2 linked regions of the Homo sapiens genome follow. The protein of the gene in region 1 interacts with the protein of each later gene in a biochemical or structural test. Each region holds a gene or a part of one and is shown in the gene's direction. Other genes may lie near its edges.

Region 1 (7,937 bases):
CAAGTGTCCTTACTGTCCCTGTGGCAGGGATGACAGATTGGGGGTGCTAGGAGTTCTTCCAGACCCTTCAACCTGGCCACCCAACAGAAGGCCTCATGGTAGATTCTGCCAAACAAATGCCAGATGGGCCAAGGTGTCTAAGGTCCCAGGTGGCTGCTCAGGGCAGCTCCAGCTGGCTTGAGGTGTACAAAGGGAGAGCCAAGTGGCTGGGGCAAGAGCCTGCCCAACTACCTGAAGGGACAAACAATGTGAGTTAACATTTATTTACGGAGTTCTGAGCATAAGTCAGGAAGCACTTTCCATGAATTAACTGGGAGGCAGGCATTGTTATTTACCTGCCTGACAGTTGAGAAAGCTCAGGCACACAGACTGGATGTGGGCGGAGTGGAAAGGGCAACGCTCATCCGAATGAATCAGCCGAGAACAGTGCCACTCAGGCCACATCTGAGTCTTCTGGAATCAGCCTGAGGCCCTGATCTGGGCGGATGTGGACAGCATCCCCCTTCCCTACTCTCCCTGAGCCAGAGTCGTCCATCGCTTCTAGCCTGAGTGCCAGGAGCTGAACCAGGAGGCTAGTGGCCAACCTGGTGCACACAGCACATGCTGCCGGAATAAAGCTCCTTCTCCGTGGTCCCAGCCCTTCCTAGCATATGCTGGGTGTGCCCGTCCTGGGGTGGTCCACACTCATCCGTCTTACAAATGCTGACCGAGAACTGCAGCTCGGATGAGGAGGGATGGAGGGGGTGTGCAGAGGGTGGGGCCCCGTCCGAGCCCTTGGCTTCTGCCCACGAGTGAAGCAGAATTTAGGGAAGAGGTGGCTGAGCCCCTACCCACACTAAGGGCTGGAGTGGGAGCCAAGGAGTCAGGCGCTGAGGTTAGAGGAGGGAGGTTTCAGAGAGGCGAGCTGAGTCCAAGGGGTGCGGTCGGCCGCCCTCTCTTCACTTCAAGCTGCAAGGAAAGGGGCTTTAAAGAAAGCCGCCAGAGAGCTTCACCGTGTCCCCTGCAGTTTAATAAATCCCTTGGACTGATGCCTCACCCACTGCAAAGTCTAGAGGGCAGTCAGGCTGGCTGCATTGAAGGCGGAGCTAAGGAGAGGGCTGGCGGCCCAGGTGAGGGCCTCCTGTGAGAGACAGCATGGAGTCTCCTAGGTCCAGTCGAAGGAGGCTGCCCAGAGAGTGAACCGACCTCAGCCAAGAGGAGGCAGAGCTGCCACTAAGTATTGGGGGCTTATGGGTCCCCTGAGGCCCATGTGAAACACTCTAGTCAGGGGACCATGGGGCCAGGCTCTTAGGACCCTTGGAGGAGCCCACAGAGAAAGAGGGACAGCTCTCAACCTCTGCAAACCCAGAGCGCAGCTCAGCCAGAGGCTGCCATGCCCACTGCCTGCCCCAAGCTGCCACCCCCAGGCCTGAGCTGGGTGGGGAGCAGGAGAGTTGATGATGGCATGGGCTTCGATGGGGGCTGAGCCTGTGTTTTGTGATGTGAAGTGATGAGGACCATTTGTATTTTCTTACCAAGATGCACCCAGCTGGCGAGGCTTTCTCTCTCTCTCTCTGTCTCTCTCTCTCTCTCCCCCCTGTACCCCTCAGCTCTCTCTCTCTCCCCCTGTACCCCTCAGCCAGGGCCCAACAAAAAATAGGGCCTAAGGAAAAGAGCCCTGGGCTGGGGCTCCACAGAGTTGCGTTTGGAGGCCTGGGGAGGAGGGACTTGAATTTGGGCCTGGAATGTGGGATCATGAGCAACAATGGAGGAAGGCGCAGAGGCCCCCAAGACCTGTGGGCATGAGCACCATGAGCCGCTCGCCCGGGGAAGGACAAGAATGAAGGCCCTGGTCAGCTGAAACAGCCCACGACTGCCTCCTGAAACACTGTGACGAGAGAAAACCCGACCTTCATCCGGGCTTGAAATCATCCCTTCCTTTCCCACTTCCAAACTCCCCCCAGCCTCAGTTTCTCCCCACAGCCCCTATGTGAGGAAACCACAGTGGGAAACACAGGGCTGAAGCGTTCCTAGTGGACAAGACCAGGTCCTTCCACAGCCTCCTTAACCTTCTGTGGGTCTGATATACCGCAGAGAATACTGGGAATTGCCAAGGCCGTCTCTGGGAAGTCTGCAGATGCCCGTGTGCCCACAACAGGTCCGCCTCTGAGGCCCATGTGGGAGTCCAGCCCCCTTTCTCCTCCCCTTCTCATTCCTGTGTTCCCCACAGGCCCAGGGGAGGGACCCAGCTGGAAGCACTTGGGGCCCTGGATAGGCCACTGAGGAAGGGGGGTGTGGTGGCAGGGTCACATACGCCCCACATCTGTATGAGGGGTGTCCACCCAGGTGCTAGCTGCAGTGGGAGGTTCGCAAGGCCCGAACAGCCGGTGGGTCCAGCAGAGCAGGGCAGTTGTCCCAGGCCCGCGGTGTCACGGCTGGTGAACTCCGAGGACAGCGCATCTGAGTGTGGGATGTCAGCGAGTGTGCCAAGCAGGGGCGAGCAGCTCTTGGGGGTGCTGCTGTGATGAGTGGGTTCCTCTGCTCCTGACTCCTCCGGCCAGGCCGTCAGGAAGACCAGCCCATCACGGCAGTGCAGTCACCAAGTTTCCAAGCTGCTGTGTAAGCCGTGGGCATAGAACCGCCAGCGGGATCTCAGCATCCACGGTGCTCACTCTAGGAAGAAGGCAACAGGCTTTGGGACCTGGCTTTACCACTCCCTAGCCTGTGACTTGGGCCAGTCTTTTAGCTTTTCTGGGTCTCACCATTATCATCTGTAGAGTGAGATAATTACACTTTTCTCCCAAGGTCACTATGAGGACTCAAAATGCTCAATGCGTCCCTGCTTGCGGAGGCGAGGCTTGCTCAGAGTCAGGAGGGCAGGACTGTCTCAGGCAGTGAAAGGAGGATGGGGCTGGGCACGGTGGCTCATGCCTGGAACTCCAGCACTTTGGGAGGCAGAGGCAGGTGGATCACTTGAGCCCCAGACTTTGAGACCAGCCTGGGCAACATAGTGAGACCCCATCTCTACGAAAAAATACAAAAATTAGCCGTGCATGGTGGCATGAGCCTTGTAGTCCCAGCTACTTGGGAGGCTGAAATAGGAGGATTGCTTGAGCCTGGGAGGTCAAGGCTGCAGTGAGCCATGATCATACCACTGTACTCCAGCCTGGGTGAGAGAGTGAGACCCTGTCTCAAAAAAAAAAAAAAAAAAAAAAAAAGCAGATGAGCTCCCAGGATGCCGGCCCTGAGCTGGCAGCCATGAAGGCGCTTGCCTCCCTCCACTTCCTAGGGTGCAGTGTGGGTGGGGCGGGGGCAGCTAGGGAGTCCTCCGGGCTCTGCCGAGCCCCTTCCCCAGTGTGAAGTCCAGCCTGTTCTGAAGTCGCACAGGGCCAGACACCTGGGCTGCCACCTCCCCTCTGGAAACAGTCCTCCTTGCCTCGGTGGGTCGACAGCTCCAGGCTATTTTCTTCCCCTGAGGATCTGAAAGTTGGAGGTAATTGGTTGGCTCAAAAAAAAAAAAAAAAAAAAAGGAAAAGGGCATGCAAGCACAATTGTGCAGGCTGCAAAGGAGGGAGGCATCCTAGGGCTTCGTCTCCATGGGAACTACTGGCACAGGCTGGCTCCTCTGGGCTCCAAAAAGGGAAACTTGGCAAAGGTTTCAGGCACCTGGCTCCTGAGTGGTTTGCTTGGGGGCCAAGCAAATGCCCAGGAGCTGCCCGCCCAAGGGACAGGACACAGCCCCCTCTCTCAGGGATGCCTGGGAGCCCTCGGCCCCATCCTTCACCCTCACACCCCAGGAGATCCCGTCAGGTCCTCAGCCACCCTGGATGCATCCTGACTTGGGAGCTGGGAGGGGACCCAGCACAGCTGGAGAGCATGAGCAGGTCATGCTTTGGGGAGACACCCGTGCTTCGAGGCCCTCGGATGGGTGAATGGGAGGTAGTTAATAAGGGACAGATGAAAGAGGTGGAAGGACCCTGAGTGTCACCCTGCTGATGTAGCCCTGGTGGCTGTTGCTGTTTCTAGGATGTGAGCCCCAGACCAGCACCTTGCAGACCAGCACCTCAGGCCAGGACCCTGAGAGAGGACGCTTCAGATGCTGGGTGCAGTGGCTCCCTGCTGTCCTGGGGGCCCCTTGGGCTGAGATCATCATAAGGGTGGCACTGTCCTGTGTCTGTGAAGAGTGGCAGGCGGGACTGGGGCAGTGGGGGTGTCCTGGCTTGTTCTGGAAAATACCTCCAGGAATGATCCCTTCCTTTTCCACTTCCACAGTCCCTCCTGGGCACTCTGGGTTCAACTGCTGCTCCTCCCCACTTCTTGGGGCAGAAACTCCTGCCCTGAACTCCCCTCTCCCCAGCCCCAGCTCCCTGCACCCTCTACCCCCATTCCTCCTTGGTGACCAAAAAGGGCAAGGAGCAGAGAAAGAGGCAGCGGGCAGGGGAGGCACAGAGAGCCGCTGGTGACAGGGTAGGGGAGAGGCCAGGAGAGCCAGACAGAGGCTTGGACAGGCTCTGAGAGACCAGGATTAGGGGCCATGGAGAGAGAGAGAGAAAGAGGGGAGAGAGAGAGAGAGAAAGAGGGGAGAGAGAGAGAGAGAGAGAAAGAGAGAAAGGGAGGGAGCGAGGAGGCAGAGGGGTGGAGCGATAGAAGCCGGCAGGGAGGAAGGGGTGGGCAGGGGGAGGGCGAGAAGCCGCCGTTGACAATTACGTCTGGGTCCAAGCAAACATGAGGCAGCTGCCAGCCGGCCTGGGCAGTCTTGTCTGCCTCGGCTGTGAAGTGGGGAGGCTGGCAACAGTTTTCTTCAGCGCCCAGGATGCAGCCGGCTAAGGTAGGTGCTGGGGGAATGGGGTCTTGCTCTGGAGGGGGGTCGGGGGGAGGAATGGAGGCTTCTGGGGGTTGCTCTGGACCAGGAAGCCTTTTTCTTTGACCCTTGTCCCCTCTTGTTCCACTTTCCTTTGGGGAAAGTGAGCGTTGGGGCGTCCTGGCTGGCGCTGGGGTGTCCTGGCTGGTGTTGGAGTGTCCTGGCTGGCGTTGGGGTGTCCTGGCTGGTGTTGGGGTGTCCTGGCTGGGAGGCTGAACTCCTAGGGCTCCCTTTGGATGGGAGAGGTTTATAAGTGTTTGCGGAAGAAAAGCTGGACAGAGGAGGAGCTTGGGGTCAGCCCACGACTCATCCTGCTCAGTTAGGTCCCTGGGTCAGGTGCCAGCGTGGCTGACACTGAGCCCGGGCCCCACAGCCTTCAGGTTTGGGGGAGGGGTGAGCCTGGGAGGGAGTCACTTGTGCTTGGAGGTTGGTCAATGAACGCATCTTCTAATCAAGCAATCAAGTAACGAATGAGTGCCCACTTCCTCTGAAAGGGCTAGGAGCCCCTAACAAGAGCACTTCCCACACATTCCCTTTCAGTAGGGCTGTGGGGAGGTCAGAGAGAGAATGCAAGGAAAACGCCTGGCACAGAGTTTGAGAAACAGTGGTGGGGAACAGGGAAGGGTGAAGAATTAAAGGAGGAATGAGGGAAGGAGAAATAAGCTGGCCCTCCAGCCTCTAGCTGACTCTCAAAAGGTCTGGCCTGATGCCCTGTGAGCTGCTCACACATTCAGGATAGTTCAGGTCTGGCTGCTCATAACAGAACGCCCCAAATAACAGTGGATGGAACAAGGTTAGCGGGGTTTCTCTCTCATGCAGAAGTCCAGAGGGGCAGTGGAGGGCTGGCTTGGAGGCCGCCTGATCAGCAGCATTTCAGGCCTGCCCTGTATCACCCCTGAGGTTACCTTAAGGTGCAACATAACTGCTGGAGCTCCAGCCAGCACACATGGGCTCATACTGACATATGAGCAGGAAGGAGAAAGAAAGAAGGGCAAAAGGACCCAGAGACAATCAGGGTCTTGAATGTAGGAAAGAAGGGATATGGGGTTGGCACCTCAGCGTCTCTGCCCTGAACAGATGGCTTCCTGCCTCTTTCATCTGTGAGGACAAGCATCCAAGCATGGGCGGGTGGCTGGCTTGGACCACACTGCCCCCAAACCCCAGGCCTCCCTTGTGCTATCTGCTCCATCTTCCAGGGTGCCAAGAGGATCAGCTGAGGTGATGGCATGAAGCCCTTTGAGCATGGCAACACTACACATGGAAAATGTGCCTTCTCTCCTGTCACCTCAAGTCTCCCCAGCAACCACCATGCAGGCAGGGCAGAGTGGAGAAACGTAGCGCCTTGCCCCAGGCTCACACACTACGGCGTCAGGGTGCACAGTGCAACCGTGCCCATAGGCAGAGACACATTGAGCGACCCTGCATGACTACAGAGATGGGAATTTCCAGAGTCAGGCTGCACACAGATGTGCACACAGCCAGCTCTGACCTCCAGCAGAAGACAGTCCTCCCCTCCTTTGCCTTTCCTCTGCGGGCCTTAACTGCCAAAGGTCACTCTGGGAGCTTGGCCACTCCTGCCCCTGCCAGACTGGCAGAGTGGGTGGCCTGAGTCCTGCACTTACATCTGGTTCTTCCCTTGGCCATTGTGACCCCACACTGCGCTCTACCCTCCCACAACCAGCTCCTGGGCCCCAGTGGGTCTCACTGTCCTTATGTCTGCTGGTGGCCTTCCTGTGGCTGGCCTGGCCAGGGAGGGGAGTGGGACCCACACCTCCTGGTGCTGGGCCCAGCAGAGACAGTGGTCCTAGGAGAAGCCACCATTAGGTTTCTCATCAAGATCAATGGGAGATTGTGAAAAATAACCTTCCTCTCTTGTGGCAGCAGGGACTGTAGTCAGAGCTCAGGTTGGGAGGTGTTCTGACTCCTCAGGGTCACGGTCAGTGGCTGTCCCCCAGTAACGCCCCATGACTGCCCGGCTCCCTAGCCTACTCCCCAGCCATTCATGAATTCTCACCTCACTCCTATGGGGAGGCGGGGAGGCACTGCCATTCCTATTCTAGACACTGAGGCTCAGAAAACTGGAACAGCTCCAGGACTCCATGAGCTTGATCCCATGAGCTCTTAGGAGAAAGGAGCGAAAGACCCGCAGTTTCTGCGACAGGCGCTGCTGTCGCGGTGTTGAGGCTGTGGTGTCTTCACAGCTCAGCCCGTGCACTGGGAACCCCTTTTGCCTGGCTTCCAGCCTTGTTGCAGGGCACTGTGCGAGATGGGCCCTAATTTGCTCCCACATTTCAAAAGACCCCAGGCTGCACTGGGAAGAAAGGGGCTCTGCCTCAGCCCTCCAGGTAGAGCCCAGGAGAAGGGCAGAGCTGAGAGCCAGAAGCCTGAGGGTACCAACGCCCATCTAGGACATTGTCTCCCGCATTATCTCCCTGGACCCTCACGCAGCCCACAAGGCAGCTGTTGGTATCATCCCCACTTCACAGATGGGGAAACAGAGGCCTGCCCCAGACTGCAGGCTACAAGAGTTGTGGCTGAGATTTGAACCCTGCTCTGTCTTACTCCAGAGCGCAGCAAGTCCCTAGGGCTTGGGGGTTGCGGAAGAAGACGCAGGAGGAGAAGGGCATGCCTTTAACCAGATGGCAGAGGAGGGGCCCATCCCAGCCGTGCGGCCGGTGGTCTGTTGTGCCCTCTGAGCCCTCCAGTGAGTGCACACAAGCCAGACTCCACCTGGCCGCATCCCCTGCGTTAGCCACGTGACCTGGAGCTAGCTGCCTCCCATTTTTGGACTGTGGATCCAGAGCTAGGAAGTAAAGGACCCCAACATTTTAAATTCAGGCTGCCTTGTCTTATCAAGACCTTCTGTGTGAGGCAGGGAACTGCTTTACTGACTTAGCAGAGGGGCCTTAGAGCCCCCCTGCCCTCCCCAGCCCACCCCTGGGCATCCCAGTGACTTCCAGGAGCAGCCAATGTGGCTTCTGCACGGAAGAAAGCACTCTCAGTTTCCAAGGTGAAGCAGAAGAGGGGAGAGAAGTTAGCACGTCTTTCTGGCCTAGTGCCCAGACCTGGGGCAGGCAGGAGCCTGAGAGTCGGGGGA
Region 2 (7,848 bases), on another chromosome or scaffold:
GCCATAGGGAGCTGGGTACGAATCCTGTACCCAGGATTGGTCTCTGGGCTTGGTCATCTTGGGTATACTCTGGGCTTGGTCATCTTGGGTGAATTGATTCCTCACTTCAGAATCTCAGTTTTCATATAAAATTGGGCCTGCTCTGGCAGAGTTGCTGTGAGGATGGAGTGGGACAACGCTGGGGCTTGAGACCTCCCTCAGTACCCCTTCTCTTCCCAGGCACTCAGAGGCATGGGGAGGGGGCCCAGGGACACTGAAAGGGGACAGGGAGGGTGGGGAAGAGCTCCACTGACTGGGCAGCCCAGGACAGGATATTTGCATGTGACTCTTTGCTGCTGCCTTGATGTGGCTGGGAGGGGGGAGGAGGAAGTAACTGAGGGTGGGAGGCTGGCGGATGGAGGGTTGGGTGAGGGACCTGTGGGTGTGGGGGAGGAGTTCCCCTTCTGGGAAGGCCTTGCCCTGGGTTGAGGGGTGGGTGTCTGTTGCTCACTCACAGTGAAGCAATGACTGCAGGGCATGTTCGCAGGAGGCCTCTAGCAAGTTTCTCAATGGGCCCCTGCAGTACTTCCTTCTCCAGGCAGCTTAGGTCGGGGAGTCATCTAGGGACCTAGCCTTGCCCCCTCCCTAGAAGGCAACTTCTGCCCTTGTACCACCTGCCCTCACCCAGGCCAGATGGATACAGGACTAGAAAGCCAGAGGGGAAACTGAGGCCCAGCATGAGAAAGTGGTTGTCTAAGGTTGCCATGGCGTTGTTGGAGTTGGGGTTCACCTCTTGACTCAGCCCTACTTGATGTGGACAGTGTCTCCCATTCACTACGTAACACACATGGAGAAGCTGAGGTTCACAGATAGCGAGTGATGGGCCACAGTGTGAATCAGAGATTCAGACCCAGCTCTGGGAGGCTCAGGCCCCTTCCACCCTCCTCAACCTGGTGGCCCACAGGCCACACACATTTGGCTAGCTCCCTGACACATTTTATTTGGCTGCAGTGAGTTTTTTTTTTTTTTTAAACAAAATGGGGGCCAATATTTTATGTTAGAGTCTGCAATTCCGGCTGCTTTTGAAAAAATCAGAAGAGCTGGCCACATTGAGCCAGAAACCCTCCTAGCAGCAATCAAGCAATCAGCTGGCGTTCTCCTGCAGCTGGCCCTGTCAGAGAGGCCTTCGCTGTTCCTGGTCATCTCACATCTGGCCCACGTTTCCCACACCTGTTGGGCTCTGCAGGCAATCGAACTGCTGCTGTGACCTCAGCTGCTGCAGATGGGGTGTCTGCGAGGTCAAGCAAGACAGGCAGGGGACCGGGGAAGCCCCAGTGTGCAGGGGACGGGGAGTCCTGGGTGCCAGCCCCCTTGCCCCTGCCTCATTTGAGCGTCTGATATCTCTGATGTGGGGCCTGGTGATAGAGGCCTGGGAGCCTCCTTGTCCCCATGCTGCCCTGTGCGTCTCTCAGGCCTGCCCCACTGGCCTAGAATCTCTCCCTCCCGGGCCTTCTGCACTTCTCAGCACTGTGACGTCCTTCTCCCCTTTCTTCACCGGGGGAACTCCTACCTGGCGGGAAGCAACTGGGGCTGGACCCATTGTTGGAGCTACTTGGAACACTGTCCTCCCGCAGCGACCTCACTGCCTCTCTTGGCTCTCCCAGTGCAGGAGCCTGAAGCAGGAGAAGCACGTGTGTCCTGGAACGCAGCAAGGGCGTGCTGGAGCGTGCAGAGGGAAGGCCTGAGGTGCTGTTCTGCCTCAGCTCTGCCTTGGCTGGGCCCTAGAGGCCGTGGACCGCACTGAGGACCCAGAGGCAGTTCTGAGGCAGTGGGACTCGAGACCCAGTGTCCTATTGCTCCCACAGGTGGCGGTGGAAATCGCAAAGGCAAAAGCAAGAAATGGCGGCAGATGCTCCAGTTCCCTCACATCAGCCAGTGCGAAGAGCTGCGGCTCAGCCTCGGTGAGGCCTGGGCAGAGACTGGGGGTGCTGAGGCGAGGGGCCCTGCTGGGGCCGGGGGAGCCTCCCCTGAGACCTTGCCCCGGAGCAGAGGGGCAGACTTGGGGGCTCCAGTGAGCAGGAGGATGAGGACTGCACCATTCAGCCCAGTTTCAGTTCCTGGGCTTGGGACGGGTGGAGAGCAGACAGCAAACAGGGTCACACCGAGGGTGGTTGAAGCGGGTGTCGGGAATAGGGCAGGGGCAGATTGGGGCAGTTGATTCCACTTTGAAAAGGAGAGCCAGCTAGGGTGAGCAGGGCCCACAGGACAGAGGGAGCAGCAGCTGGGCCAGCCCACAGACTGACTGCCTTGGGACCCCCAGGCTGGGGCGTAGCCTCCCAGGCCCAGCCCTGAGGGGTGCCCAGCAAATCCTTGACCAGAAGCCCTCAGCCTGGGCAGTGTGACAGGGTTACTCCTGGGAGGGGACAGAAGGGCCCAGGACCCCAGTTCCTGCCAATCTTGGCCAAGGCCCCAGGTCTGAGCAGCACCCAAGGTTGCTGAGGCCCCCGGTGGCCTGCACGTGCGCAGAGCACACCCGGGCTGCTTCCACCTCCTGGGAAGGAGGCCCAGCTGAGAGCCTGCCGGAAGCCACAGCTTCCTCTCGCACTTTCGCCAGGCAGGCAGCAGGTGTGGGCCTGGCCCCGGCTGGGCTGGGCCGGAACCTCACGGACCGCACCCAACCCCAGTACCGTGACATACGCAAGTCGTGTAAATCAGGAGACAATGCAGGGAGGTGGATGGAGGCCTGGGCTCTGGAGCCAGACTCCCGGCTGTGTGACACTGAGCTAGTCAGTTAGCCTCTCTGGGCCTCACAGCCCCAAAACAGCTGTGCCCACCTGAGGGTTGTGGTGAGGGTTCTGAAGAAGATTGTGGCTACCACACTGCAGAGCTGGAAGCTGTTGTGGGGGCCCAGGGCCTGGTGGTGTGGGCACATGCCCCACCCATGTGCTCTCGGGCTGTGGACCCAGCAGCTTCCATCACTGCCAACAGAGCGTGACTATCACAGCCTGTGCGAGCGGCAGCCCATTGGGCGCCTGCTGTTCCGAGAGTTCTGTGCCACGAGGCCGGAGCTGAGCCGCTGCGTCGCCTTCCTGGATGGGGTGGTGAGTGCAGCCCAGCCCTGCCCAGCCCCGCGGGTGGCCGAGGTCCTGGCCCCATGTGCCCCTCCTCCCCACACCTGCTGCTTGCCCTGCCCAGACCTCCAGCTTCTTTGCTTTCCACCCTGCAGGCCGAGTATGAAGTGACCCCGGATGACAAGCGGAAGGCATGTGGGCGGCAGCTAACGCAGAATTTTCTGAGCCACACGGTGAGTGAGCAGCGATGGAGAGATGATGGGAGCCACCAGAGCCCCGTGTCAGGCACAGGAGTGACCACAGTGTCAGGCTTCTGAGGGTGGTCTCTTCATACAGACACATGTAACACACAGCCTGGACAGAGAGTGCCCTGGAGCTGCTCCAGGCAGCACGGCGGGCATGCAGCCCAGGGTATGGGCTGGGCTTGGGCCAGGCGGCCTCCCAGTGGCTCTGCTGCGCTCTGCCTCATGGGTGGGCAGCAGGAAGGACTTCAGCAACCAGGCTGGCTGGCACACCCTGGCCTGCAGCCTCTCATGGCACCAGCCCGAGTTGCCTGACCCCTCTCCCCTGGAAGTGGGCAGCCATCCAAGGGAGCCCCTGCACTGACCTGTCTGGGGCTTGTTCCCAGGGTCCTGACCTCATCCCTGAGGTCCCCCGGCAGCTGGTGACGAACTGCACCCAGCGGCTGGAGCAGGGTCCCTGCAAAGACCTTTTCCAGGAACTCACCCGGTAAGCCTGTCCCTGCCCACAAGCCTGGAATTATGCCCAGCGGAGGGGGCTTCTGGGGGCCAGGAAGACTGTGAACAGCTCGGTGGCTGGTGAGGGAGCTCAGCTGCCCAGCCCTGGCCTTGCCCCTGCTGTGTGACCTGAGCAGGCTGCCTCCCCTCTCAGTAGCACCCACAGCTTCAGCACAGGCTGTGTGTCTCCCCGCTCAGGGGTTAGCAGGAGGACTGGCCGACGACGATACCTGTGGGCTAAGCCTGTACAGAACGGGAGGCCTGGCCCAGCAAGCCAAGAGCCTGAGGTGTCAGGGGCTGGCGGGTGAGCTGGGCCTGCCTTTCCTCAACAGGCTGACCCACGAGTACCTGAGCGTGGCCCCTTTTGCCGACTACCTCGACAGCATCTACTTCAACCGTTTCCTGCAGTGGAAGTGGCTGGAAAGGTGAGCTCCCTGAAGGCTGGGCCGGGACAGGCCAGGTCGCCGGGGTTCTTCATAGGCCTTGGGCTCTCCTGCTCAGCCAGCGTTTGCTTCCCCACCCCTTGCCACAGGCAGCCAGTGACCAAAAACACCTTCAGGCAATACCGAGTCCTGGGCAAAGGTGGCTTTGGGGAGGTGAGTGGCCAGGCCAGAGCCCCTGGGAGAGTGAATAGGGTGGGTGTGTTGGGACCTGGACCACCCCCTGGATGCCCAGCAATGGCACAGCTGGCCCCCATTCGCCCCTGTCTGTCTGGCCACAGGTGTGCGCCTGCCAGGTGCGGGCCACAGGTAAGATGTATGCCTGCAAGAAGCTAGAGAAAAAGCGGATCAAGAAGCGGAAAGGGGAGGCCATGGCGCTGAACGAGAAGCAGATCCTGGAGAAAGTGAACAGTAGGTTTGTAGTAAGTACAGAAGGAGACTCTCCCTTCCCCTTGGCCACACTGGCGCACCGACCGTCCCCACCCCCCAGGCCCCACCCTCCCATGTGGGATGCCAGGAAGGGCGGGTTTGGGGTGTTGACACCAGGCTTGGGGAGCAGGCTGGGCCCAAGGAGTGGCACCGAGAAGGCTTTTTTGGGCAGCCCTGCCGCCAAGCGCCCCGCAGCTCCTGCCTGAGGGCTCGGGTCCCCTCGGCCACAGGTGAGCTTGGCCTACGCCTATGAGACCAAGGACGCGCTGTGCCTGGTGCTGACACTGATGAACGGGGGCGACCTCAAGTTCCACATCTACCACATGGGCCAGGCTGGCTTCCCCGAAGCGCGGGCCGTCTTCTACGCCGCCGAGATCTGCTGTGGCCTGGAGGACCTGCACCGGGAGCGCATCGTGTACAGGTGGGGAGGGCTCGGCCACCCCAGGGGCTTAGTCCTTCCCTGCCAGCGACTGCAGCTGGGCCTGGACGGGGGTGGCCAAGGCTGCCGATCAGGCCAGACTACAGAAGGACATTGGTTTGGGGGCTGTGGCACCGGCTTAACTCACACGCCAGGCCAACCTGAGTAGCCCAGACCTAGGCTTTGGGCTCTGCTGGACCCACGGGGTATCCTGACTTTGTCACCCCTCCACCCCCCACCGTGTGACCTTGGGCCAGGAGCTCCCTGCTCCCAACACTGCTTCCTTTTCTAGGAAGCAGAGACTATAATTCCTACTTCCCAGGTTGTTAGAAGTAGGCCCAACTTCCTACTGGAGGGGCCCAGTGAGCTAAGTACAGAGTGCCTGGCACATGGGGCTGGGTAAGAGAGAACCCTGGCTCTGATTGTTGCCGACTTCCTGTGAACCTCACAACAGCCTAGTCAGGGGACGGATGAGTAGTCCCATTTGATAGAGAGGAAAGGCAGAGTCAGTCACCAAGGGGTGGAGACTCCTTGGTCTCCACTGGGGAGGCCCCTCCGGGGTGGAGCTGTCTTCCACTCATCTAGAGAGTCCTGGGAGTCCTGGCTCTAGATCCTTCCTCTGCTCCCTTGAGTCCGGGCTGTTGCCAGGGAGAGCAGGGCTGTCTGTCGCCCTGGCAGCAAATGAGTCTCGCACCTTGCTCCACACCTGGCCCCCGGAGGCGAGTGAGCTGGGGGGGCTGGCCCCTTCTGACTCCCTGGCAAACTGAGCAGCATCTGACCCTGCTCTTCTCTCTGCACAGGGACCTGAAGCCCGAGAACATCTTGCTGGATGACCACGGTGTGTAAGGGTGCCTGGGGTGGGTCAGGGTGGGGTGAGATGCAGAGGCCTGGCCTGTTAACGGGTCCACCTGTTTCTCCACCCACACTCAGGCCACATCCGCATCTCTGACCTGGGACTAGCTGTGCATGTGCCCGAGGGCCAGACCATCAAAGGGCGTGTGGGCACCGTGGGTTACATGGGTGAGTCTTCTCTGCCCGGCCCACTAGCCTCCTGGGTTCCCTCACTATCCACCCACCCAGCCACACCCACTTCTGTCTGGGAGTCTTCTCTCAAAAGGGGCCTCAGTAGAAAGGGCCCATGCCGATGCTCCTCTTCTAGAGGTTAGGAGACCAAGACTCAGCCGGGGCCGCACACAGTTGTGAAGCCATGTCGTTCATTTGCTGAATACTTATTAAACCCTGCTATGGCTGAGCCTGCAGGTGGCTACCGGGGGATGGAGGAGAGAGACCCAAACCTGTTTCCGTGGCCCCAGTCCCTGCCCTCCCTGTGCCCATCTGTGAGGGAGGCCAGTGGAGGGGCCAACATGAGGCCCCACATTCCACCTGGAGACCGAGAGACGCAGGAGGCAGAGTCCTGGCTCTGCAGGCTCCGCCTCTTGCCGGTTGCGTGGCCTTGAACCAGACACTCCGCTGCTCCCGGCCTCACTCTGCTCCACTGGAAAACACTCATCATACCTGCCTCCCAGGGCTGCCTGGAAGATGAAAAGGGAGAGTTCAGGGAAAACTCCCCACAGGGCTGCCCTGGCAGGTAGGAGGTATTCAGAAAATAGGAGTTTCCTTCTTCTCGCTGATATTAAATCCAGAAGTTGCAAAATGGTAGCCACATGGGCCCAATTTGGCCTACATTTGTGTTTAAGTCAAACTGTTTTTAGTAAGCCAGATGGTTTCACATACAAAATACAGATTTCTGACTTCTTGTGTAAAATCTGAAGACCCGGGGACCCTGGGCGCGGCCTCCTGCAGGGCCGTATTCACCCCGCTTGATGGGGCCTGTGCTCTCCTACTGGCCAAGGTCCCCCCTGGCCAGCGGGTGTGAGTGTATCCCAGACCTAACGTGCACTGGCGTTCCTGGGGCCTGAGGGTCCACTGCCCGCCTCCTGCCCAGCCCTAACTCCCATGCCGCCCGCCCAGCTCCGGAGGTGGTGAAGAATGAACGGTACACGTTCAGCCCTGACTGGTGGGCGCTCGGCTGCCTCCTGTACGAGATGATCGCAGGCCAGTCGCCCTTCCAGCAGAGGAAGAAGAAGATCAAGCGGGAGGAGGTGGAGCGGCTGGTGAAGGAGGTCCCCGAGGAGTATTCCGAGCGCTTTTCCCCGCAGGCCCGCTCACTTTGCTCACAGGTACGGCAGCTCACAGAAGCCTGGCCAGCCAGGGCTGGGGTGGATGCACCTTTCCCTCCCTCCCACCCACTCACCTGCCTGGCCTGCCTGGCCGACTCACCCCTGCCACAGCTCCTCTGCAAGGACCCTGCCGAACGCCTGGGGTGTCGTGGGGGCAGTGCCCGCGAGGTGAAGGAGCACCCCCTCTTTAAGAAGCTGAACTTCAAGCGGCTGGGAGCTGGCATGCTGGAGCCGCCGTTCAAGCCTGACGTGAGTGCAGCCCACTCCTGCTGAGGGCGGGGCCCAGCCAGGGCTGGGGCTCAGGGGCTCTTGTAGTATCAGCCAGGATGCTTCCAGTGCAAGTGGCAGAAAAAACAATCTAGTGGCTTAGCCACAGAAATAAAGATAATTCACAAAAAGGAAAAGCCCCAGGATGGGTCTGGCTTGTGGCATGCCTGGATGGGGCTTGGAGCCTCTGACAATGTCCTAGGAACTCTCTCTCCTTCCCCTCACTGTACCGTTGAGTGTGTAGTCTTCATATTGGGGTAGCTCTCCCCATGGTGCGGCAGCAGTGGGCCCCAGCAGCTCAGCCACCACAGTAGACAGAGAGCTTCT

What was found. The genes of interacting proteins can lie anywhere in the genome.
Region 2: the proteins of KCNIP3 (region 1) and GRK6 form a complex in vitro, tested with the Homo sapiens proteins (one study listed by BioGRID).

What each region holds. Positions count from the first base shown.
Region 1 is NC_000002.12:95,292,647-95,300,583, forward strand, and holds the start of KCNIP3 (calsenilin), read left to right. Parts: upstream 1-4,700; 5' UTR 4,701-4,792; coding exon 4,793-4,807; intron 4,808-7,937. UniProt on the Homo sapiens protein: Calcium-dependent transcriptional repressor that binds to the DRE element of genes including PDYN and FOS. Affinity for DNA is reduced upon binding to calcium and enhanced by binding to magnesium. Seems to be involved in nociception.
Region 2 is NC_000005.10:177,429,028-177,436,875, forward strand, and holds part of GRK6 (G protein-coupled receptor kinase 6), read left to right. Parts: intron 1-1,844; coding exon 1,845-1,940; intron 1,941-2,683; exon of another isoform or gene 2,684-2,909; coding exon of another isoform or gene 2,910-2,967; coding exon 2,968-3,080; intron 3,081-3,205; coding exon 3,206-3,283; intron 3,284-3,678; coding exon 3,679-3,779; intron 3,780-4,119; coding exon 4,120-4,212; intron 4,213-4,319; coding exon 4,320-4,383; intron 4,384-4,508; coding exon 4,509-4,649; intron 4,650-4,886; coding exon 4,887-5,077; intron 5,078-5,874; coding exon 5,875-5,912; intron 5,913-6,004; coding exon 6,005-6,094; intron 6,095-7,045; coding exon 7,046-7,254; intron 7,255-7,365; coding exon 7,366-7,503; intron 7,504-7,848.